7 linked regions of the Homo sapiens genome follow. The protein of the gene in region 5 purifies or fractionates together with the protein of the main gene of each other region. This does not show direct contact. Each region holds a gene or a part of one and is shown on either strand. Other genes may lie near its edges.

Region 1 (4,134 bases), on a different chromosome or scaffold from region 5:
ACTATGTATGCAATGCATGATTTCAAGAGCTTTGCAAAATATAATCTATTTAATTTTCACAGCAGCCCTACGAGAGAGGTACGATTATTATCCCATTTTATAGATGAAGAGACTGATGGCAGAAATGCCAAATGTAATAGGAAACAGCCTTTCTTCATGCATTCCACAAATATTGGCTCGGCGCCCGGGAAGCTCATCTTCCACGATCTGTACTTCCGGAGGAGTCCCAGAGGAACACCTCCTCAGTTCAGAGGAGTCAAGGGTTACAGCGGTGCCCTCTCCCATCACTACTCTTTTCCCTTCAGGCGCCCTAATTGACATTCGATTTGTAGCCATTTGCACAATGCTAAGTGACAGGCTTGGGCTGCACACAGGACCAGGCCGTCTTCCCTCTCCTGGGGATCAGTCGTTCACAGAACCAAAAACAAGTTGCATGGACGCGCGCGTTGGCTGCAGATTTTCTTCACAGCCAGGAGAAAGAGCACGCGCTCTCCAGCCCCGCCTCTTCTTCCGGGACGACGAATTGCGGGGCTCGGATTGGGCTGAGGCGGGCCACGCCTCCTCATATCCTCCAATCAACTCCCTCTCTGGTGCGCTCCCTCCTTCTCAGCCCCGCCCCACCGCCCCACGTTACGTCGCTCCTTCTGGCCTCCTCCGTTATCCCGGCGGCTGCGGCTCGCGCGGCAAACCCACCTCCCATTGCTTCCCATTGGCTGGTCAGGTCCCGCGCGAGCGGGATCGCGCCCTTCGCCCCCCACCCCCAAAACCGGGCCATGCCTCTCTCCTTCGGCTTTCTCCAGGAGCCAGCGCGAGGCAGTAGATCGGCTGCTTGAGACGCGCGCGCAGCTCCTGCGGACCACTCCCTCCGCCCTGCGCCAGCAGCTGCGCCGGCTGGCAGCCCCCCGCGCACGCGCGCTCGCCCATCCCGCTCCCTCTGCTCGTTTGCAAGTCGCCTCGCGCTCAGTCGCGACGGCGGCCGCCGCAATAGCGGCATTTTCGGGGGCGCACGCGCACTGCACCGTCCGCGGCCGTTCCTAACCTCAGGCAGCGGCTGTGGCAGTAAGCCCCTCGGGTGCGCACGCGCTCTGACCTCTTCCCACTGCCTCGCTGGTTGTCCCTTCGCGGCGCGCGCCCAGGGGCCGTTATACCCCTGCAACGGTCCACGCGCCGCGCACGCGCAGTAGCGAGGGGGCGCGCGCGCGGGAGCGGCCGTCGCAGGAAGGAGGTGCCGCCGCTGCCGCCATTGCGAGGGAGGGAGGGAGGGAGGGAGTGAGCGAGGCTGGTCCGCCCTCCCCCTGGTTGCCGCCCCTCCCCCCTTCCCCTCCCCGCCCCCCGCCCCGAGGGAGAGCCGCGGCGCGGCGGCAGGAGGAGGTGGAGGAGGCGGAGGAGGGAACCCGCGAGGGAGGGTCCGCCCGGCCCCCCGCCGCCGGAGCCGCCGCCGCCGCCTCAGCCGCCGCTGGACTAGGAGCAGGGGAACATGGCGCCGGGGCCCCCGTCGTTGCTGCCGGGATTTTGGAGGCCGGGGCCGCGCTGAGGGCGCCCAGCTGGTGAGTGCGCGAGCTCACGGGCCCCGGGCGGCGAGGCCGGGCGCCGCCCCGCTGCGGGGTCCAGGGGGAGGCGGGGACGGCGGGGCCCGGAGCCCGCGAACAATGGAGGAGCTGGAGGGGGAGGGGAGGAGCGGCCCCCCCCCCAGCCCCCCGGGCCCCGCCGTCCCCGTCGCTTCGCGCGTCGGCCCGGCCCGTGGGGCCCTCCTGCCCTTTGGACCTGCCCCTGCCCGCCCCAGCCCTGCTGTCCCCGCCGCCGCCCCCATCCCCGACCCGTTGGGATCTCGGTGTCTGCCTCGGAGCCTACCCGACTTCAGCCAACCGGTTCCCAATTCTGCGCCCCCCTTCCCCCTTCCACCCCTCCATAATGCCCTTCGCTCCTCCCGGGCTCTGCAGTGCTCCTGGGACCCATCTTCTCCTCATTGACCATTCTGCATCTCTTAATTGTGGCTCCCACTTTTGAGATCCGTGACGCTTCTCCCTCTTCTCGATTCTGCTCTCACCACCCTTCAGATCTGTCCTCGGCCCCTTCTTTGACCTACCTTCTGTGCTATTATTCCTGTCTCAGAATCTGTTGCACCCTGGGAGCTGTCCCTTTAGGACCTGCGGTTCCAACCCTTTGGAGATCCATCTGAGACCCCTGTTCGGCCAGGCACTGCTGCCCCAGGTCTTCCCCTTGGACTGAATCCCGTTCCCTCGTGGGCCCTACTACCCGCATTTCTTGTCTGCCCTCTCGCAGAGCCTGCTGCACCCCGGGATGCCCCTCGGCTGGCTTTCTGACCCTTCCGTGCCCCAGCTCATTCCCCTGATCCCCTCGGACTTGGCTGCACCGTGCTTGCCTGTTCCCCTTCTCAGCTCTTGTTCCCGTTTACCATTCAGACCCTTTCCTCTCTTCCAGACCTTTCTGCCTCTCAGCTCTGCCCCTTGCCCGACCTCAGATCTTGCTGCGCTCCCCTCACCTGCTTGCTTCTGACTCTGCCTTCCCGGGAAGCAGCCTCCTCCCCCTTCTCTGACTCTGCAGGTCTCCCATTTCTGCTATTCACTTAAATGATGTATCCCTAACTCAGACTGCCTTCAGTTTCAGCCCGTGTTCTCTTGGAGGTTTCCTCTCTTCCCCACCTCCTTTTTGGCACTCCTCTGAGCTACTGCATTCATTTGCTTCTCCTTTCTTTGGCCTGTCTCTCCTTCAGTTCTCTGCCTGAAAACTGCTTCCTGTCCCCTCTTTGCTCCAATTCCTCTCCTCCCCGTTTTAGCCCTTAGACATGCCCTTTAACCTCACTATACCTCTGATACCTCCCGGGCTGGTCACCCATCCCCTTCCTGTTCTGCATCTCACAGACCTGCCCCTAGATCCATTTTGTACCTACACTTTCTTCTCGTTTTTTTCAATTCTGCTCCATCCTCTTTATTTAGTGTTTCCCTCCCCAGCTCGGCTCCTTCGGAGCTGTCCACTTGCCCGCATATTTTTAGACCGGTTTTTAACTTCTGTATTGCCGTCCTTTCTTGGAGCGGTCCTTTAACACTGGGGTTCTTGTCACTGTGTCCCCTCTCTGTTCCCTCCCGAGTCTTTTAAGTTTTCCACATGACAGTCTCTTCCCCCCACCATTTTGATTCAGCCCTCACCCTTCACTCTGCTTTATTTGCCCACCCTCCACTGTTCTGCCTCTTGTCTTCTTTTGGAGTTCTCACTCCAATTGTGACATTACGATGTCTTCTTAATCATTCTTTCCTATGTATTCCCCCCCACCTTCCTCTTGGAGCTGCCTCAGTGCTGTGATAGATTATCACTCCCCTTTGATATCCCTCTCCCAATTCTGTTCCTCTTGGACTTGTTTCCTTCCTCACCTTTTTTTTTTTTTTCCTTCCCCTTGTATCCTGCCAGGCTCCTTCTCTTCCCATTTAGTTCCTATCAGACCTGCTCCTCGCAGCTCACCACCCGTGGCCCACCCATTCCCCATTGAGCACTTCCCCTTTCAGGCATATCTTTCTTTCCATCCCTCTGCTGCAGAGGCAAAGGGGCTGGATTGGGCCTTAGGCTCTCCAGGCTCTGAGACTGCAGATTCTCTCTCTGCGCCCTAACCCTGAGGGTTCTCTCCCCAGGGATCCTGAGAGATCTGGGTAAATAGGTGGGGGTTGGTTGATTGTTACTACTCTCTGGAGTCTGGGAGTGTCTCCCCCATTTCCCCCACTTCCACTAGGTTAGTAGTGTGGGGGGAGGTAGATCTTTTTCCATTGCCCCATTTTCTTTCCTCTGCTGTTTGCTCTCTCCCTTCCTATCTCTGGGCTTTGCAGCTTTGTGTCCTTTGGAAAAGGGGATTGCAGCTGCTCGCAGATCTTTATTCTCTTTCTCACTTTCCCTCCTTCCTTCTCTGAGCCATTGCATAGAGTACCCTCTCTCCCCTTCCACCTCTAAGCCAGCAACCCTAGGAGTGTCCTTCCCTTCCCCCCCGCCTTCGCCCCTCCCCCCCAGCTAACAAGTTATTTCAATATATAGTTTTACCTCTAGCTGGGGAAATGCCAGTTCTCAAATTATCCCGATCCCACCAGGGGTTATGGCCACAGTTGGACCTAGGGAAGCTACAGTATTGCC
Region 2 (3,500 bases), on a different chromosome or scaffold from region 5:
TTCAGGCCATTCTCCGGCCTCAGCCTCCTGAGTAGCTGGGACTACAGGGGCCCGCCACCATGCCTGGCTAATTTTTTGTATTTTTAGTAGAGATGGGGTTTCACCGTGTTAGCCAGGACGGTCTCGATCTCCTGACCTCGTGATCCGCCCACCTTAGCCTCCCAAAGTGCTGGGATTACAGGCATGAGCCACCGCGCCTGGCCAAGGAAGCATGGTTTTTTAGGGAGGTGAAACTATACTGTATGAGACTATAATGATGGATATATGATATTATGCATTTGTCAAAACTCATAAAATTATATAACACAAACAGTGAACCCTAATATAAACTATTACTTCAGTTAATAACAATGTATCAACATTGGTTTATCAGTTGTAACAAATGTAGTACACTAATGCAAGATGTTAATGGGGAAACTAGGTTTGGGGTAGGGAAGGGAGTATATGGGAACTCTGTACTTTCTGCTCAAATATTCTATAAACCAAAAGCTGTTCTAAAAAACGGAATCTATTAATAACTTTTAAAAATGCTTAAATATTAGCAAATCAAATGCAGTGATATAGAAAAGAATAATACTTCATTACCAAGTGTGGTTTATGCCAGGAATACATAGTTGGCTTAACACTTGACACTCAATCAGTGTGATTCATCTTATTAACAGTATAAGGAGAAAACCCACGTGATCATTTCAACAAACGCAGAAAAAGCATTTGACAAAATTCAACACTCGTTCATGACACAAATTAAGAATAAAAGGGAACTTCTACGATCTGATAAAGGGTATCCACGGACAAACCTACAGTTACCATCATACTTAGTGGTGAAGTAAAATAAACACAGGATGTCTATTCTCACTTCTATTCAACATATTACTGAAAATCTTTGTCATTGAAATAGGTCAAAAGCAGCAATAAAAGACATACAAGAGCAGAAAGGAAGAAGCAAAATTGTTTATATTCACAGATGGAATCATTGTTTATGTAAAAAGCCCTAAGGACTCTATAAAACAACTACTAGAACTAATAAATTAATTTAGCAAGTTCACAGAATACAAGCAATAAAACAAAAATTAAAAAACAAAAAAAGACATTTTATTTTATATTTGCAGCAAAAATGAGAAAATGAAATTTAATTTTTTTTTTTTTTTTGAGACTGAGTCTTGCTCTGTCAAGGCTAGAGTGCGGTGGCACAATCTCAACTCACGGCAACCTCCACCTCCCAGGTTCAAGAGATTCTCCTGCCTCAGCCTCCTGAATAGCTGGGATTACAGGCACCCGTAATAATGCTTGGCTAATTTTTTTGTATTTTTAGTAGAGATCGGGTTCCACCATGTTGGCCAGGCTGGTCTCAAACTCCTGACCAGGTGATCCACCTGCCTCAGCCTCCCAAAGTGCTGGGATTACAGGCATGCACCACCACGCCCGGCTGAAATTTAAAACTTTTTTTTTTTGAGACAGTTTTGTTTTGTCTCCCAGGCTGAAGTGCAGTGGTGCAATCTTGGCTCACTGCAAGCTTTGCCTCCTGGGTTCAAGCAATTCTCGTGCCTCAGCCTCCCCAGTAGCTGGGACTACAGGCGCATGCCACCACACCCGGGTGATCTCTTGTATTTTAGTAGAGATGGGGTTTCACCATGTTGCCCAGGCTGGTCTCAAACTCCTGAGCTCAGGTGATCTGTCTGCCTTGGCCTCCCAAAGTGCTGGCATTACAGGTGTGAGCCACCACGCCTGGCCTAAAACTTTAATTTAGGATAAATTTAACACAAAATATACAAACTCTCTACACTGAAAACTTGCTGAGAAATTTTTTATGTTTTATTTTTTTTTGAGACGGAGCTTCATTCTTGTCACCCAGGCTGGAGTGCAATGGCGGATCTCAGCTCACTGCAACCTCCACTTCCCAGGTTCAAGCGATTCTCCTGCCTCAGCCTCCCAGGTAGCTGGGTAGTTGCAGTAAGCTGAGATCACGCCATTGGACTCCAACCTGGGTGACAGAGCAAGACTCTGTCTTGGAAAAAAAAAAAGAAAAAAGATGGCAATTGTCCACAAATTGATCTATAAAGTCAACGCAATTACAATAAGAATCTCAACAGACCTTTTTGCAGAAATTGACAAACTGATTAAAAAATTTATATAGAAACCTATAAGACCCAGAACAGTCAAGAACAATGTTAGAGAACTTATACTACCCAACTTACTATAGAACTACAGAAATTAAAGACAATGTGGTACTGGCATAAGGACTGTTAGGTAGATTGGTAAAACAGAATTGGGAACCCAGAAACAGTCCCACACTTATATGGCTATTTGATCTTCAATAAAGATATGAAATCAATACAACTGGGAAAGAAAATTCCTTTACCAAATGAGGTTGGAACAACTGGATATCCACATGGGGAAAAAAAAAAAAAAAAACTTTGACCTTTAATTCACACCACACACCAAAATTAACCCAAAACAGATCATAAATACAAAATCTAAACTATAAAACTTCTGGAAGAAAACACAGAAGAAAGTCTTTTATGATCCTAGAGTAGACAACAATTTCTTGTTTTTTGTTTTATTTTGGTTTGTTTCTTTTCTTTTTTTGCAACAGGGTCTTGCTCTGTCACCCAGGCTGGAGTGCAGTGGCCTGATTCCAGCTCACTGCAGCCTTAATCTCCCAGGTTCAAGTGATCCTCCTGTCTCAGCTCCCTAGTAGCTAGGATTACAATTGTGTGCCACCATGCTTGACTAATTATTTATAGAGATGAGGTCTCACTATGTTGCCCAGGCTGGTCTTGAACTCCTATGCTTAAGCAATTCTTCCGCCTCTGCCTCTTAAAGTGCTGGGATTATAGGTGTGAGCCACTGTGCCCAGACAGAATTCTTAAAACATAAAAAGCATGAGCCAAAAGGAAAAAAACTGGACTTCATCAAAATTTAAAACTTATTTTCAAAATATACAGTTCTAAAAATGAAAAGGCAAGCCACAGATAGGGAGAAAATGTTTGCAGTACATATATATGACAAACGCATTGATCCTGAATATATGAAAACAGTTTATAGCTCAATAAAACAAACTATTTTTTAAAAAAATGGACAATTATTCAGATACTTCAAAAAAGAAGTTATTCAAATGACCAACTGCATATGAAAAGATGCTCAATATCATTAATTATTAGGGAAATGAAAATTAAAACCACAATGAGATACCACTACATACACTGGAATGGTTAAAATTTACAAAGATTGACACTACCAAATGACGTGAAGCAACTGGAACTCTCATACACTGTTGGCAGAAGTATGACATGATCAAAGCTCAGTTGGTCTGGCAGTTTCTTAGAAAACCAAACATATACCTACCCTATAATCCAGCAATTCCACTCTAACATACTTGTCCAAGAAAAATTAATACACAATATACATTTTCATAACAAAGACTTGTACAAGAATGTTCATAGCAGCACTATTCATAATACCCCAAAACTGGAAACAGCCCACATAGCCAAAAAGATGTT
Region 3 (3,500 bases), on a different chromosome or scaffold from region 5:
GTACCACTAGACTCCAGCCTGGGTGACAGAGTGAGACTCCGTCTCAAAAAATAAACAAAGTTTACCCATTTCCTTCCATATTTGGTCAATGTGCGAACAAGAATTATCAGTGATTCCAGGGTTGACTGATAAAGTCTAACTTACACAGGTAAAGACAATATGGCTTTTTGGAGAAAAACATCTTTTCAAAGAAAAGCATCATCTGAAAATGGTTTACAGGTATAAGACTGAGACTATGAAAAAAAAAAAAAGAAAGCAAGAGTACAAACTACACTAAGATTTGAACTTAAATATACAGATGTTATCTTTCATAGGATAAAAAAATCTTGCTATGCTCTTCAGGGAGGATAATTTTGTATTCCAGATTCCCCAACCTGCTCAAGATCAACATCTGACACACATCTGTTATTATAAGACTGTCCACACATTATTTTCTTTTGACCAACCAGTAATGAAAATAAGGGTCATTTAAACATGGGATATTTAAAGTAAGTATAATCCTATCCTTTTATGCGTTCACTGTGTGAAAACCAGACAGTGCACTTGCTTCACTGAACTTTCTAGACTCCTCTCCCTCCTTTTGTCCAAGAGGCCCCTGCTCATCTAGCTGAGACATCTTTGGTAATTGTGCCAAGCTGCAGAGCCGTGTCCTAACATATGGCAAACTTGCCAACGGCTACCAGAATGAAACATTATTAGTGTTTTGATTTGTGACTTTAATCTGGGTTTCTCAAAACAAGCCTGGAGGAAAACTGTGCAAAATTATTCTATTATCTTGTTGTTGTTAAATGATAAAGCTTATTCACAGTTGTTTCAAAGATTAGAAGAGTCATCACGACAGCTCTCACCATTAGTTTATTTAATCTAATTGATTAATTAGATTTATTTATTTATTTATTGATAGCACTCACTCTTGGCCCTCCCTTTGCAATTTCAGGCCCTCTCTTGATAATTCATCATTTAGAGAATCACTTAATGCTATAATTTCCTAATTGCAAACATCTTTAGTAGGTTATTTGGTTGTAAAAATTTATTTATGCCCATAAAATATAAATTGGTGATTAGATTTTCTTTTTCATTCATTCGTTGCTCTGAAACTTTTTGGCTCTGCTTTAATTAAAGTTTTATTAAGTATTAAATGAGGCTGCATTTACACAATAGCTTTAAGAGATGCCGAAAACTCACCCATTTAACTTCTTTGACCCTGATTTTAATACTTTGAATGTGTCTTTACTTTTTTCCTACTCTTACTGGTTTTAATCCAGTAACTGTATAATAAATCAATGCTGCCGGGCGTGGTGTCTCACGCCTGTAATCCCAGCACTTTGGGAGGCTGAGGCGGGTGGATCACAAGGTCAAGAGTTCAAGACCAGCCTGGCCAACATGGTGAAACCCCGTCTCTACTCAAAATACAAAAATTAGTCAGGCGTGGTGGCGCACGCCTGTAATCCCAGCTACTCAGGAGGCTGAGCCAGAAGAATAGCTCAAACTTGGGAGGCGGCAGTTGTGGTGAGCCGAGTTCGCACCACTGCACTCCAGCCTGGGTGACAGAGCGAGACTCTGTCTCAAAAAAAAAAAAAAAAAAATCAATGTCATACATTAAGAGGAATATTGAAGAGAATTTTCAAATTAACTTAGGGAATTAAAAATTGAGGAATGGGAATTATATATTAGTAAAAACAGTTAAGATGATTTCTAACTGAGAAAATCTTAAGATGCTATGATTAAATACTTATTGGATCAAAGGTTCTGATTTGCAATGACATTTTTTCCTTTGTCAGGTGTTCCAGTGCTGGCTACCTCACCCTTGATGTTTTTCATTCCAACAGTCCTACTAAAAGTCTCCCCTAAACCAAACCTTCTAGGGGTTTCATGAGCACTGTGGGGCTCCAAAGCTGAGGATGGCAGAACTCTGAAAGGCAAATGACTGACAGTCGTCACTAGACCCATGTTTTCTAAGAGGAGCAGGTGAAGCAAAAAAGGAATCCAGCAAACAAAGCCACAAGTGAAGAAAACAGAAAAAAAATATTGAAGATAACAAAAGAAAAGACGTGGAAAAAAACGTAAAGAAGCTAACAGAAAAGAGAAGCACAGAAAGAAAGAAGGGAAAATGGAATAAAAGGGTTTTCATGGCTGGGCGCGGTGGCTCACTCCTGTAATCCCAGCACTTTGGGAGGCCAAGGAGGGCAGATCACAAGGTTAGGAGTTCGAGACCAGCCTGGCCGACATGGTGAAACCCTGTCTCTACTAAAAATACAAAAATTAGCTGGGCATTGGCGTGTGCCTGTAATCCCAGCTACTCAGGAGGCTAAGGCAGGAGAATCACTTGAACCCCGGGGGTGGAGGCTGCAGTGAGCCACGACTGTGCCATTGCACTCCAGCCTGGGCAACAGAGCAAGATCCTGTCTCAAAAAAAAAAAAGGTTTTCATGGTGGTGAAGACAAAAAAAAGAAAATGTAAATGTAAATGAAGAAAGACGGCAATAAAAAGGAAAGTGAAGAAAAAGGAAGAAGACAAATTTAAAAATCAAATATGGGAGAAAGCAGGAAGAGGAGACCTGGGGAGGAAGGTTCTCATATCCCTGCCCATCTCCACCTTCTCGACTCTCTCCCCTCTCCAGTCTAGGTCCATGCGAGAAACAGGACGGTCCCTTCTTTTTAACCATCCACGTAAAACTCCTGCCCAAAATTGGTGATGATTATGGTTTCTTATTATCCCTGTCACTGAGTTACGAGTCAGAGTCAAGAACAGGAACAAAGCATAAATATGAGGTCCCAATTAAATAATTAAATAATTTTCTGGCTAGGCATGGTGGCTCATGCCTGCAATTCCTGCACTTTGGGAGGCCAAGGTGGGAGGACTGCTTGAGGCCAAGAGTTGGAGACCAGCCTGGGCAACATAGTGAGATTCCATCTCTATAAAAAATTAGCCTGGCATGATGGTGTGCGCCTGCAGTCCTAGCTCCTATGAAGGCTGCGGCAGGAAGATGGCTTGAACCTGAGTTCAAGGCTGCAGTGAGCCATGACCACACCACTGCCCTCTAGCTTGGGTAACAGAGCAAGACCCTGTCTTAAATAAATACCTAAATAAATAGATAAATAAATAGTAAATAATTTTCCAAAAGGAGTGTGCCTCAAGGCCCCTAAGTGTTAAGGTTCAGCAAAGTATACTCAAATGTTAGTAACAATCAAAGCATACAATGCAAATGCTCATCATGAAGTAGGTATGGTGAGCAGTTCAAGCCAGCAGTGGGCCTCAGTGAGATCTTCACTTTCCCCCATGTCTAGCACATCCTTTTAGGCTCTCTAATATCCCTGGCAGGAGAGAACATGCAGTTTTTTTTTTTTTTTTTTGAGACAGCGTCTGGCTCTGTCGCCCAGGCTGGGGTGCAGTGGCGCGATCTCGGCTCACTGCAAGCTCCGCCTCCTGGGTTCACGCCATTCTCCTGCCTCAGCCTCTCAGGTAGCTGGCACTACAGGAGCCCGCCACCGCTCCCGGCT
Region 4 (3,500 bases), on a different chromosome or scaffold from region 5:
ATCGTCATGTTGCACTGTTTTTGATCACAGACAGTAGGCTGTTAAGCATTTTTTTTAATCCTATTTTTTAGAGACAACTTCTATGTTGCCTAGGCTGGTCTTGAACTCCTGGCTCAAGCAATTTTCCTATCTCAGCCTCCTGAGTAGCTACGACTACAGGTGTACACCACTGTGCCCAGCCTTTTAAATTTTAACTGTCTGTTTGTCTGTCTGTCTGTCTAGAGACGAGCCCTCTCTGCATTGCCCAGGCGGGAGTGCAGTGGCTATTCACAGGCTTGATCATTGCATACTATAGCCTCAAACTCCTGGCCTCAAGCAATCTTCTCACCTAAGCCTCCTGAGTAGCCGCCACTACAGGCAGGTGCCACTGAGCCCAGCAAGCATTTTTTATCAGACCACACCTGTTGCATAACTTCACTACTCAGTAGTCACACACATCCACAAACTTGTCCACTTTAACTCATTCTCTCTTTATTTCATTCTCTGACTTATTTAATTGTACAATCTTGAAGTTAGAAGAATCATGAGCCCAATTCTTTCCCAATATAGAAATCTGTATTCTATTGGTAGTTACTGAAATCTTAGTGATTAAGAGCATGGCTTTGGAGTCAGTCAAGACCTATCATTTATTGGCTTTTTGGCCTTGGATACTTGACTCTTCTCTGTTTCATCAGCTGCAACATATAATTAATAATAGATACTACATAGTAAGAACTAAACATTTGTCATTTTCCATTAAGGGTCTCCTTGCACAACTCTTCAGGTGAGCACCTGATTGCTGTGGCAGCTGGTTTTTATGTGTGAATGAGATGATCTCTACTTCTCTATAATTACCCATTGGTTTGTTCTGCCTTCTGGGGCAGTCAGTCTATACAAAATGTAGATAAAATCTCTTTTTCAGAGAACTACTCTCTGAAGTACCTGAAAGCTGTATTCATGCCCTCTGAGTAGTCTGTTTTCTGGGCTAAACAGCTTCAGTTCTTTCTGTAACTTCTTAGGGCACAGTCCTGATTTGGTTTCTGGCCCCTTGAAAATTGTGATTACTGTCGTTGGGATCTGGTCTGAGATAGCAGTGTCCTTTTTTAAAGTAGGATACTCAGAATTGAACTTGGGACTCCAAGGGTAGACAGGCCAGCTCAGCAATGAGGTGAGCTCTCCTATCTTGTATTCCCTTTAATGCAATTGAAAGTAAAATAGCACTTTCTTGGTAGCTACATAGCACAATTGACTAATGTTGAGTAGATGGTCAGCCAAAACCTCCAAGTCTTTTTCACATTTGTTATTCTTTTAAAAAAAAAATTAATTGTAGTAAAATACATCTAACATAAATTTTACCATCCTAACCATTTTTAAGTGTATAGTTCAGTAGTGCCAGGTATATTCAAATTGTGCACCCAATCTTCAGAACTTTTGATTTTTCAAAACTGAAAGTCTACACCCATTAAACAGCTCCCCATTTCTCCCTCCTCAGTCCCTGGCAACCACTAATCTACTTTCTGTTTCTATAATTTTGACTACTCTAGATATCTCATATAAGTGGAATTGTATAGTGTTTGTCTTTTTGTGATGGCTTATTTCACTTATATAATGTCCTCAAGTTTCATCCATGTTGTAGCATGTATCAGAATTTCCTTCCTATTTAAGGCTGAATAATATATCATTGTATGTATATACCATATTTTGTTTATACATTTTTTTTTTTTTTGAGGCAGGGTCTCACTTTGTTGCCCAGGCTGGAGTGCAGTGGCATGATCATGGCTCTGCAACCTCGAACTCCTGGGCTCAAGCAATCCTCTGCCTCCTGAGTAGCTGGGACTACAAGTGTGTGCCACCATACCCAGCTAATTTATTTATTTATTTATTTATTTATTTATTTATTTATTTATTGTAGAAATGGGGTTTCAGTATGTTGCCCGGGCTCCATTCATCTCTTGATGGATACTTTGGTTGCTTTTGCCTGTTGGGTATTGTGAATAACATTGCTATGAATAAGGGTGTGAAAATATCTCTTTGGGACCTTGCTTTTAATTCTTTTGGACATAAACACAGAAGTGGAATTGCTGGATCACTTGGTAATTTTATATGTAATGAGAAACTGGCATGCCATTTTCCATAGTGGCTACACCATTTTATATTCCTACCAACAGTACACAGTGGTTCTAGTTTTCCACATCCCCACCGACATTTGTCATTTTCTGGTGTGTGTGTGTGGTAGCTGTCCAAATAGTTGTCAGGGTGATACCTCATTGTGTTTTTTAGTTGTATTTCCCCATTAATTAGTGATGCTGAACATGTTTTCATATGCTTGTTGGCCATTACGTTTGTTCTTGTTTTTCTTTTTCTTTTTTTTTTCTTTTTTTTTTTTTTGAGATGGAGTCTTACTCTGTCACCCAGGCTGGAGTACAGTGGTCAACTCGGCTCACTGCAACCTCTCCCTCCTGGGTTAAAGCAATTCTCCTGCCACAGCCTCCCAAGTAGCTGGGACTACAGGTGTGTGCCACCATGCCTGGCTAATTTTTTTTGCATTTTTAGTAGAGACAGGGTTTCACCATGTTGGCCAGGCTGGTCTCAAACTCCTGACCTCAAGTAATCCACCCGCCTTGACCTCCCAAAGTACTAGGATTACAGGCATAAGCCACAGCACCTGGCCTACATTTGTTCTTTAATCAGTTTACCCCATGCAAATTTTTAAGCCACAACCTGTTTTATCTCTGTCAAGCCTCAGCTTGTTTTATATGTCCCATTGCTCCAGCTAGTTGAGAGCATCTTAGATTCCAAGACTTTCATGCTATGTTTACTCTTTTTTCCATCTTCATGTCAACTGTATGTTAGATATACCTGGCTCAAATAATTTTCTTCTCTCAGCCACTAAGGATGACTAAACTTCTGACTTCTCAAAAACTAGACTGCTTAATAAGTAAGCTGACTTGATCACATATCTCTGGCATGTTTAGTGTGCTCAGGGCACTCAGGTATAGAATGGGCTGTCCCAGAGATCTTGAATTCCCTGTTGAACTAGCTTAGTTCAAGGACGGAATGGTCTTTTATCCAGAAGACTGCGAGGGGACTCTTCCGTGGGATGGGAGTTAGCACTAGATAACCCTTATGGTCCATAATGGCTTAGATTTCTTTTTTGTTTTTGAAACAGGGTCTTGATCTGTCACCTAGGGTGGAGTGCAGTGATTGATCATAGCTCACTGCTGCCTCAAACTCCTGGACTTAAGTGATTCTCCTGCCTCAGACTTCCAAGTAGATAATGTAAAAATTATCTAGACCCAGATCATGTAAAAAAAAATGTTTTGTAGAGATAAGGACCCACTATGTTGCCCAAGTTGATCTCAAACTCCTGGCCTCAGGCAAATGGCTCTGAGAGTCTATGATCTGCGCCTGCTTAATCTGTTTTGTCCATTTATACAGAAATTAATTTTTTAAATTTATTTTTTGTTTTAGGTAGTTAATACATTTCATATAGCTGAAAAATAAAAAAAGTATAAAAAGAT
Region 5 (3,500 bases):
TTTGAAATATGTAATACTTTTTTACTAACTGTGGTCACGTTGCTGGTGCAATAGATCACTAAAACTTATTCTTCCCGTCTAACTGAAACTTTATATCCTTTGTCAATCCTGTCATCTTAAATTACTTATGTGTGTATTTGAATACAGAGTGACAAGTTTCTTATTTTACTTATTGTCCTTATGTTAAGTTTGGTAAAATGGAATATGAATTTAAGTGCAACTGGTATACTTAGAAAAACCAAGCAACAAGAGGGAACATTTTATATTAATTTGAGTATTTGTATAAAGATTTCATACTTGGGTTCCTTTACTTTTCTAGGCTTAATGAAAACTCAAAATTAATAATCTTTAAAATGCTTAAATTATGATTATATTAATATCTCTACTTTCTATAGATAATATACTCTTAAACAAGTAAATTCTCTTTTGAAGTTATTCTATTTGCTTATACTTTGTACTTATTCCAAAAGACTGGTCAATTTTACATTTTCATCTCCTTCTCTGAATTTAAGAAACTCTTTTATATTTAGAGTTTAAAAACTACAGGTGGATAAAAAGTAATAAATACAAGGTCCTTCTATTCAATTGTCTTCAATGAAAGTGATGTAATCTCAAAAACAATTGGTTAACACATTTATCCCCGTTAAATGACACATAAGGCTAAGGGAACATTTTTATATTACACTGATGCTATAATAAATGGGCTGATTTAATATTGTTGGTTGCAACTTACAGCATTTCTGTCTACTTTAAAGTTAGGAACTTCATGGTTATTTTGGCATTCTTCCTATGAATTACAATTAAAATAATGTAATTAGTCTGTAAAATTCAAAATGCTACCTTTACTAATAAAGGAATAAAACCTAAATTATATTACTTTGAGGTCAATGATAGGTTCGCATGAACTATTTGCTTTTCTATATCTTTCTCTTTTAAAAGAAAATACAGTTTTCTTCCTACTGCAGAAGTATCAGATTCTTGCAGCATCCATGACACTTGTAAGCATTCAGTGGTCAGACACCACTACATATCCTTCAAATGATGTGGCCCAGTGAAGCTGGAGGGTGTCGTCACGGAGCCAGGCAGCCTGGTATCTCAGCCATCCACCAGGACAGAGCCAGCAGGCACTAGCTGGTGTGCTGAATCTTGACTAAAGTGGGAAATGGATTTTGCATTTTGAAAGTCAACTCTTCTAACATTGAACCTTAGGACATACCTGTTAGATAAAAGTGCATTGAGGGCTTCAGAAATTTACTGGATCAAATTTATAAAGCTCCTCTGCCAAAATTACTCTTAGAATAAGTTAAATCTTAATTTTATTATTCCTCTGGGTTTCTGAATTTATACCGTGTTATACATATTTTTAAAAGTATGAGTAAATGTATGTTCAGAACTATAACTGTGTTGTCTGAATTATTGACTATGTGTGATATATGCTAAATGAAGTATACTTGTAGGTCATTTAAAAGTGACAAAAATTTAAATCACAGAATATTAATCACCAAGGCCCATCGCCCATCACACTGAGTTTGCCATTTGGATCTTTAGACAAACGAAAAATTCCAATAAAATAAAAATACGTTTCATGTTTTTTTCCTCATTGGCCTCTTGTGCTCACTGTTAAAAGCACACGGGGATTTGGATTCTTGTTTCTTCTATTGTCCTATTATCATCTTTTGACAACACGATTCGTTAACTCATCTCCCACAGATGTTAGAAAAATGAACTTACAGGGTTTTGTTACAAGTTCAAGATTTCTCATGCCTCCTGTTGGCCTCTCCTTAACACAAGAGCTGCCTAAAAAAGTGTAGAGAGTATCTTCCATTTCTTTAAACTTTAGTTACCTAGGTCTGGTGGAAACATAATGACACACACACACACACACACACACACACACACACACACACACCATTTAATTCTATAAGGCTGCACAAGGTGGGCCCCATTCTTTAGACATCATTCTGACTGGGAAAATGCCCTGCTAGATTTTCAAACCATGTACTTTGCTACACTTTGTAACACTTTGGTGGTTAGGCTGGAGTAGCCTGGCATCTGGAATCATGATGTTTTATCATGAGAAACTGAGAGGATACTGTTTCTCTTTTCTAAAAAGAGAAAGAAACCCTTTGCTAGGGCTCATTAAAAATGGTTTTAAAATTGGAGCCAATAAAACACGATTGTCAATTCCTACAGCCTTTTTATCTCAGCAGCATTTTTAAAAGGCATCATTTCTCTCTCCCCTGAAATCCTACTTGCAACACACACAGCCACATTTCTAACTAGCAACAACAGAGGCAGCAGCAACTCTCCAACTTCTTTGTCACTGGTGAGCAGGCACACAGACCAACTGGAGCTAGAAGCCTCTCCACTCCTCCATCCCAATTTTCAAGTGCACTCTTCTCAGAAATGGGAGTTGCTAGGCAAGATTCACCCCATCACCCTGAAATCTCTTGCTTTACTCTCCTTTAAAAGTGAAAAGGAAAGGCTTTCCACAACATAGAAAAGTTTGCCTGGGCACATGATACCAGCATTTCCAATAGTGACCCTAATAGACAAAGCATTTTGGAGTTCTGACATCGACAGGGAGCAGATCCCAGTCATGAAGAAACAACTTGAGTGTGTGACGGCAAGACCATGAAAGCCTTCCTTTGCAAGCATCGCCTGGGCTCTTCTGCTCACCCAAGGCAGAACTGAGGAGGGGTGGGGTGGGCATTCCTCACCACAGGATCCTTTTTCTTGAGCAAGCCCATCTTAAGATTTGTAGGGAGAGCTGGCTTAGAGAGACTTCCAAAGCTACACTTCTAACTGTCCTGGCCTTTGGCCCCATCTGCCTGTCAATTTCAGTCTGAGTCCACAATTCCCATGTTTACGGCTCTGGGGATATCTAGAACCTCGGCTTTGGAGCGCTCAGGGATGCTGCTAGGCCAGTTCCCTATTGACCTTTCAGGGACTCTGAAATCAACTTTCCTCACACACTCTGAATTGTTTGCGTTTGTTTTCATCCTGCCAGAGCCACCCGCCCAGGCCACCCATCTCTTCCCTCCTCCCTGCCCCCTCCCCTCCCTCCGGCCTCTCTGGCTCTACCCCCCCCTCCCCCGCCCTCCTCTTTGTTGTCTCCTACCTGCTGGCCAGGCTCTGCCTGCAGTGCTGCCTGAAGGGCATCAGGTGGTAGTTCATGGCGTCCAGCAGCAGCTTCTGGCAGACCGGGTCGGTTCGCATGAAATCCACTGACTGGACCCGCTCCACCAGCTCCGGGGCCGGGATGAGGGCGAAGCGGAGGCGCTTCATGAGGTCAGGCGCATACTGCATGCGGGTCTCGCGGTCGTGCTCCAGCCACAGCACGGACATCTGGAAGAGCGCCAGCTCCGACTCCACGGGGGGCGGCAGCGAGTCCAGCAGGGCGCGCATCTCCTCGAAGTTGAGCAGCAGCACATCCTCCACCAGGTACTTGTTGGCCAGCTTCTTGGTCTCCTCCAGGCCGTGCAGCGCGGCGATCTTGC
Region 6 (2,159 bases), on a different chromosome or scaffold from region 5:
TAATACACACACACACACACACACACACGTAACTTTGGGAGGCCGAGGTGGGTGGATCACCTGAGGTCAGGAGTTTGAGACCAGCCTGGCCAACCTGGTGAAACCCATCTCTACTAAAAATACAAAATATTAGCCGGGCGTGGTAGCGGAAGCCTATAATCCCAGCTATTCAGGAGGCTGAGGCAGGAGAATCGCTTGAACTCGGGAGGCGGAAGTTACAGTGAGCCGAGATTGCACCATTGCACTCCAGCCTGGGCAACAAGAGCGAAACTCTGTCTGTCTCGAGAAAAAATTTTCTTTTCATAGATAGATGAGAAGTTTATTTTGGACTGTGTCGACATGGCATCAGTTATTTCAGGCAGAGTGTAGCAACTTACAGTTTTGTTTACACATGCTGTTGAAATGCAGGTATGAAGGGCTGTATACTATAAATAGCCTAAAACTGGTTTTGCAGTTTGGAGGGGGATAAAAAAAGCTACCACCTTCTCATGTTTGCTTTTAGGCTGAACATCTTCATCTTGAGAGAGGAAGAGGCCAAGAGACATGACTATGAGGTGGACATCACAGTGCTCAAGGAGCCGGCAGACGTGTCATCCTCTCACCTCATACTGGACCCTCCCAAGGAGGATGTGACCGTGTCCCCATCCAGCAAGACCATCACCAGCAAGAAGAAGAAAAAGTAGAGAGACACGAGGACACACACACAGGCTTAGGATGGCACGTGCTGTAAGATTTCCTGAGCATTACAGTTCTTAGCACTGAACTCGTCACAGTGTTTTAACATACCCCTTGGCCCACTGCATCTCAGGTTTCCTACATGGCTGGATTACGGGAGTTCGAGACCAGCCTGGGCAACATAGTGAGACCCCCCCATCTCTGCAAAATTAAAACATCAGCCGACCGTGGTGGTGTGTACATGTGGTTCTAGCTTCTTGGGAGGCTGAGGTGGGAGGATTGCTTGAGCTCAGGAGGTTGAGGCTGCAGTGAGCCATTGCATTCCAGCCTGGGTCACGGAGCTGGTGGCCAGTGTAATCTATAAATAGGCAGCAGGAGAGAGACTCAACACCAAACCAGAATTTTAAAAACTTTTAACAATTTATTAGTCTTATTTTCCAGTAAAATATTCACATAATGTCAAAAGAATGAAATGATAGCGATATAGCCAACTACCTTTAATTAATTCCACATAAATATTTAAAATCTAAAAACCTCAGATCAGCAGACCGAGTCGAAATGTGATTCTTCAAAGCAAGTATTGCTTTACCCTTGTCCTGAATGCAGTCCGTCATATGACCACTAACTTGCATGTGACCAAATGTTTGCAGAGTGTTTTTTAGATATGCTCTCGGTGAGCCGTCATCCGTCAATCCAAGAAGAAGATGTTGTTGAACTGCGTTGCACAAAGTTTCTTGACCTCTTCTGCAACAAGGACACAACAGTGAGGAAGGAAGAGGCAGTCACTTAAAAGGTTACATGATATATAATTAAATTCTTCTTGGGTAAAATTAGGAAGAGAGATTTGCATTGATTTTGACCTTAAATCCCAGAAGACTAGGCAAGAATTTTTTTTTTTTTTTTTTGTTTGAGACAGAGTCTTGCTCTGTCACCCAGGCTGGAGTGTAGTGGTGTGATCTTGGCTCACTGCAGCCTCTGCCTCCCAAGTAGCTGGGACTACAGGTGCACACCACCACGCCCTGCTAATGTTTGTATTTTTTGGTAGAGACAGGGTTTCGCCATGTTGGCCAGGCTGGTCTCGAACTCCTAACCTCAAGTGATCCGCCCACCTTGGTCTCCCAAAGTGCTGGGATTACAGGCATGAACCACTGTGCCCAGCCAAGAAATGTTAACAAGTAGAAGAGGGGAAAAAATCCACCTACAAAACCTACCAGGCCTCAGGAGTTTTGAGCCTATCAACACTGCTGCCCGGGGCCTGAGAAACTGCAAAGTGCCCGGGACACCCAGGGGAGGGGGTTAGAAGCACAAGGCTGGTGACACACACCAAGCACAAGGTTGTCATCCTGGGACAACTAATGGAACAACAAAGAAACGGACAGCAACCTTGAGCTGCAGACCAAGTGCTCCGCAGAGGGGTCAGGATTTTGATCTTACCACATTCACAGTTTAGATCAGGCTTGCATTAACTGATGTTTCTAGTGCGC
Region 7 (3,500 bases), 900 kb from region 5:
TACACAGCAAAATGTTAAAGTGGTTATTTCTAAATATTATGAAGACAGATGGTTTCACTTCTATTCCTTATGTTTTTATGTATTTTCAATTTTCAAAAATAAGTACATATCATAATTTTTATAACTAAGGAAAAATAAACCAAAAAGAAGTATAGCTCACTGAACAGAGTACATTGAAATGTTACTACAGCATTTGTTAGGCTGTAGCTGAAACATAATTACAAATACCTTTTAATAACTTACTAGTTGTTTAACTTCTTCATTATCCTTTCCACTGAAATCTTTAGGATGAAACTTCCAAAGCAATGACAAATCAGTCAACAAAAGTAGAACTTTCAAAGGGTTTCTAAAAGCCACTTCCACTGTAATTGGTTCTATTAAAAAAAAGGCCTAAATTAATAACTTTAATAAACATCACACCTCATTCTCAGCTTCGATCTTCTAAATGCATCTTGCTTTCATAGCTCTGCATTTCTGCCTAGACTGTCCTTTATTACCTTATAAATGTCCACGTATTCAGGATTCTGTTGTAATACTACATTACCTCCTTGAAAAGATTTCCCCAATTTCTCTGTACTAAAGAATGCCATTCCCTCTTGTATATTCCAACATCACATTGCAAATAGCTGTAGAAGAGTCCCCCTTGTCTGGTTTTATAAATGCAGCTCAGTAAATTATGAGTTCCTAATTTATTTTTGCATCCCCAGCACCAATTATGTGTGCCAAACAATAAATTATCTTCATCATGCTGTAAGTAAAACAAATAAAAAACAGAAATAAAAATTCAAGTATATCACCTTCTACAACTGCAAGTGGAAATCTTGAATTATCTGAGTAACTGTTCAAACAGTATTGTGTGGGATGAAAATTGGATGGAATTACTCCTTTGTTAACCACAGAAACAACTTGTTCCTCAAGTTCTCGCCACTGCTGAGAGGATTCAGAATCATATTCTTGATCAAGACTTACATGAGTAGCTGCTTGTTTTTCACCTAAAAAAAATTTGTTAACAACACGTTTATGAAGACTTGCCCTCAAATAAAACATATTTTAAATAGACATAAGGTACAGAAATAAAAAAATATATATATATACATTCACTCTTGCCTATTTCTAATTCTGAGTGAAAAATATCCTCTCATTAATCCTAGCTTATCTGGATTTTGCTTATAATACTGATGTTCTTTTCCTCCTGACTCTGAAAGAATGTATTTTCCCTCGTGTCCACAAGCAATTTTTATATAAAACATTTCAAATATACAGAAAAGGCATGGAGACTAATATAACAAATATTTGTATACTAAAATTTAACAAATGTCAACTTTCACCTATGATCCCAAATATTTTTAATAAAAAAAAAACATCACAGATAGAGTCGATGTCCTCTCTGCACCACCCCCAATCTTATTACTCTCCTTCGCCCCCACTGGCATCACTTCTTCCCAGAGGTATTCCAAAGTTAAAGTGTATCATTTTCATCCATGATTTTACCACATAAGTATATCTAAAAAATGCATAAAATTAGTTTTTATGTTTGAAACTTATACTGTAATTGACTCTTCACTCAGCATCAAGTTGTGGGAAATGTAGAATTAGCATGAATTCTCATGTACTGCAGCATGAATCCATTATGTGAATATACAAAACCATATCAATTAATCCTCTATTAGGAATTCTATTTCTTTCACTCTTTTGCTACTACAAACAATGCTACTATGAATATGACAATTTAAAAAAAAAATACTAAATCGTATCTCAAGGAGAAACGTTGATTAAATTCAAATATAAGAATGTTTAGAATGACAAAGTTTAACAGCCATCGAGAGCTTTAAAATATATGCATTTATATAAAATATATTTGTATAGATTTAGGGGGTACAAGTTATGTTTTGTTATACAGACATATTTTCTTGGTGGCAAAGTCTGGGCTTTTCGTGTAGCCATCACCCAAATAGTATACATTGTACCCATAAGTAATTTCTCATCCTTCATTCCCTACCCTCCCAAGTCTCAATGTCTATGTGTACACATTATTTAGCTCCAACCCCAGTTATCGATGGGAGCATGTAGTATTTGACTTTCTGTTTCTGAGTTATTTAATGTAAGATAATGAAGAGCTTAATATATTTATACTTTTGTTCCATTATTGCCATTCTAGGGTTCAATCCTAAATAAATCATCCTGCATTTAAAAAAAAGTCTTACAAGAACAGCAGAACATTGGTAACTGTTCTTTACTTCTATGTACATTTGAAAATTTCCATAAGACATTTAAAAAACAAATTTTATCTACAAAGATGTCCATCACAATACGATTTTTTTTTTTTGAGACAGTCTTGCTGGAGCGCAGTGGCGAGATCTCGGCTACTGCAACCTCCGCCTCCTGGGTTCAAGCGATTCTCCTGATTCAGCCTCCCGAGTAGCTGGGACTACAGGCGCATGCCACCACGCCCAGCTAGTTTTTTGTATTTTTAGTAGAGACAGGGTTTCACCATGTTGGCCAGGATGGTCTCAATCTCTTGACCTCATGATCTGCCCGTCTTGGCCTCCCAAAGTGCTGGGATTACAGGTGTGAGCCACCACACCCGGCCACAATATAATTTTATATAAGCAAAAGATGGAAACAGTCTATATATATCAAGTGGATGTTAAAATAAAGTACTTTATAAGCACTGAATAGAATATTTTACTAACATTAAACGTTTATGAAGATTATATAATAACAAAAGCATTCTTTAAGTGAGAAAAGCTGTTGTAATTACAACTGTTTTGTTTTCATTTCATTGTTTTTAGTTTTTAAAGCTGGAAAGAGAAACACCAAAATAGTAGTTATCTTCAGGTGACAGGACAAAAGAAGTAATAGAGAGCTATTCATTTTCCTTTTTTTTTTTTTTTTTTTTTTTTTTTTGAGACAAAGTTTCACTCTGTCGCCCAGGCTGGAGTGCAGTGTCGTGATCTCAGCTCACTGCAACCTCCGCCTCCCGGGTTCACGCCATTCTCCTACCTCAGCCTCTTGAGTTGATGGGACTACAAGCATGTGCCACCACGCCCAGCTAATTTTTTGTATTTTTAGTAGAGATGGGGTTTCACCATGTTAGCCAGGATGGTCTCGATCTCCTGACCTCATGATCTGCCGGCCTCAGCCTCCCAAAGTGCTGGGATTACAGGCATGAGCCAATCGTACCCGGCTGAGCTATTAATTTTCAAATATTCAACTATACATCGTTTTTTAAATGGAGAAAGGAAAAGAAGTTTTTTTTAAATTGTCATTAGGTAATTAGGCTAAATAAAACTTTACTAACCATCCGCTGGTCGTCTGTCATGGCCAAAAAAAACCCGTGTTGCTGAACTGTTAATATACGGTAAAGGAAGCTGTGGCAAAGGACCATCTGGTGACAGCTGACTTACATTCTGAGAGAAATATAAAAGGGAAAAAAAGTAGTTTTTGTGAAAATGGTATTTTTATTTGTTTCCTCGTTTCTTAATACACAAGGCATTAAA

The links.
Region 1: the proteins of KLHL14 (region 5) and ARHGAP35 purify together in Homo sapiens (affinity purification with mass spectrometry; one large-scale study listed by BioGRID and IntAct). This does not show direct contact.
Region 2: the proteins of KLHL14 (region 5) and TANGO6 purify together in Homo sapiens (affinity purification with mass spectrometry; one large-scale study listed by BioGRID and IntAct). This does not show direct contact.
Region 3: the proteins of KLHL14 (region 5) and MYO10 purify together in Homo sapiens (affinity purification with mass spectrometry; one large-scale study listed by BioGRID and IntAct). This does not show direct contact.
Region 4: the proteins of KLHL14 (region 5) and NEU3 purify together in Homo sapiens (affinity purification with mass spectrometry; one large-scale study listed by BioGRID and IntAct). This does not show direct contact.
Region 6: the proteins of KLHL14 (region 5) and CCZ1 purify together in Homo sapiens (affinity purification with mass spectrometry, with the first as the bait; one large-scale study listed by BioGRID). This does not show direct contact.
Region 7: the proteins of KLHL14 (region 5) and TRAPPC8 purify together in Homo sapiens (affinity purification with mass spectrometry; one large-scale study listed by BioGRID and IntAct). This does not show direct contact.

The regions. Positions count from the first base shown.
Region 1 is NC_000019.10:46,859,663-46,863,796, forward strand, and holds the start of ARHGAP35 (rho GTPase-activating protein 35), read left to right. Parts: upstream 1-1,334; 5' UTR 1,335-1,394; coding exon of another isoform or gene 1,395-1,658; intron 1,659-3,459; coding exon of another isoform or gene 3,460-3,546; intron 3,547-4,134. Other genes in the region: translation initiation factor IF-2-like, read right to left, coding at 563-1,234, 1,395-1,658, 3,460-3,546.
Region 2 is NC_000016.10:68,853,531-68,857,030, reverse strand, and holds part of TANGO6 (transport and Golgi organization protein 6 homolog), read right to left. Parts: intron 1-3,500.
Region 3 is NC_000005.10:16,695,289-16,698,788, forward strand, and holds part of MYO10 (unconventional myosin-X), read right to left. Parts: intron 1-3,500. UniProt on the Homo sapiens protein: Myosins are actin-based motor molecules with ATPase activity. Unconventional myosins serve in intracellular movements. MYO10 binds to actin filaments and actin bundles and functions as a plus end-directed motor.
Region 4 is NC_000011.10:74,998,933-75,002,432, forward strand, and holds part of NEU3 (sialidase-3), read left to right. Parts: intron 1-1,874; exon of another isoform or gene 1,875-3,500. UniProt on the Homo sapiens protein: Exo-alpha-sialidase that catalyzes the hydrolytic cleavage of the terminal sialic acid (N-acetylneuraminic acid, Neu5Ac) of a glycan moiety in the catabolism of glycolipids, glycoproteins and oligosacharides.
Region 5 is NC_000018.10:32,766,524-32,770,023, forward strand, and holds part of KLHL14 (kelch-like protein 14), read right to left. Parts: coding exon 3,122-3,500; intron 1-3,121.
Region 6 is NC_000007.14:5,924,892-5,927,050, reverse strand, and holds the end of CCZ1 (vacuolar fusion protein CCZ1 homolog), read right to left. Parts: intron 1,420-2,159; coding exon 1,364-1,419; 3' UTR 684-1,363; coding exon of another isoform or gene 503-683; 3' UTR 501-502; downstream 1-500. Other genes in the region: RSPH10B (radial spoke head 10 homolog B), read left to right, coding at 503-683. UniProt on the Homo sapiens protein: Acts in concert with MON1A, as a guanine exchange factor (GEF) for RAB7, promotes the exchange of GDP to GTP, converting it from an inactive GDP-bound form into an active GTP-bound form.
Region 7 is NC_000018.10:31,870,129-31,873,628, forward strand, and holds part of TRAPPC8 (trafficking protein particle complex subunit 8), read right to left. Parts: intron 3,411-3,500; coding exon 3,302-3,410; intron 993-3,301; coding exon 798-992; intron 375-797; coding exon 244-374; coding exon of another isoform or gene 232-243; exon of another isoform or gene 229-231; intron 1-228. UniProt on the Homo sapiens protein: Plays a role in endoplasmic reticulum to Golgi apparatus trafficking at a very early stage. Maintains together with TBC1D14 the cycling pool of ATG9 required for initiation of autophagy. Involved in collagen secretion.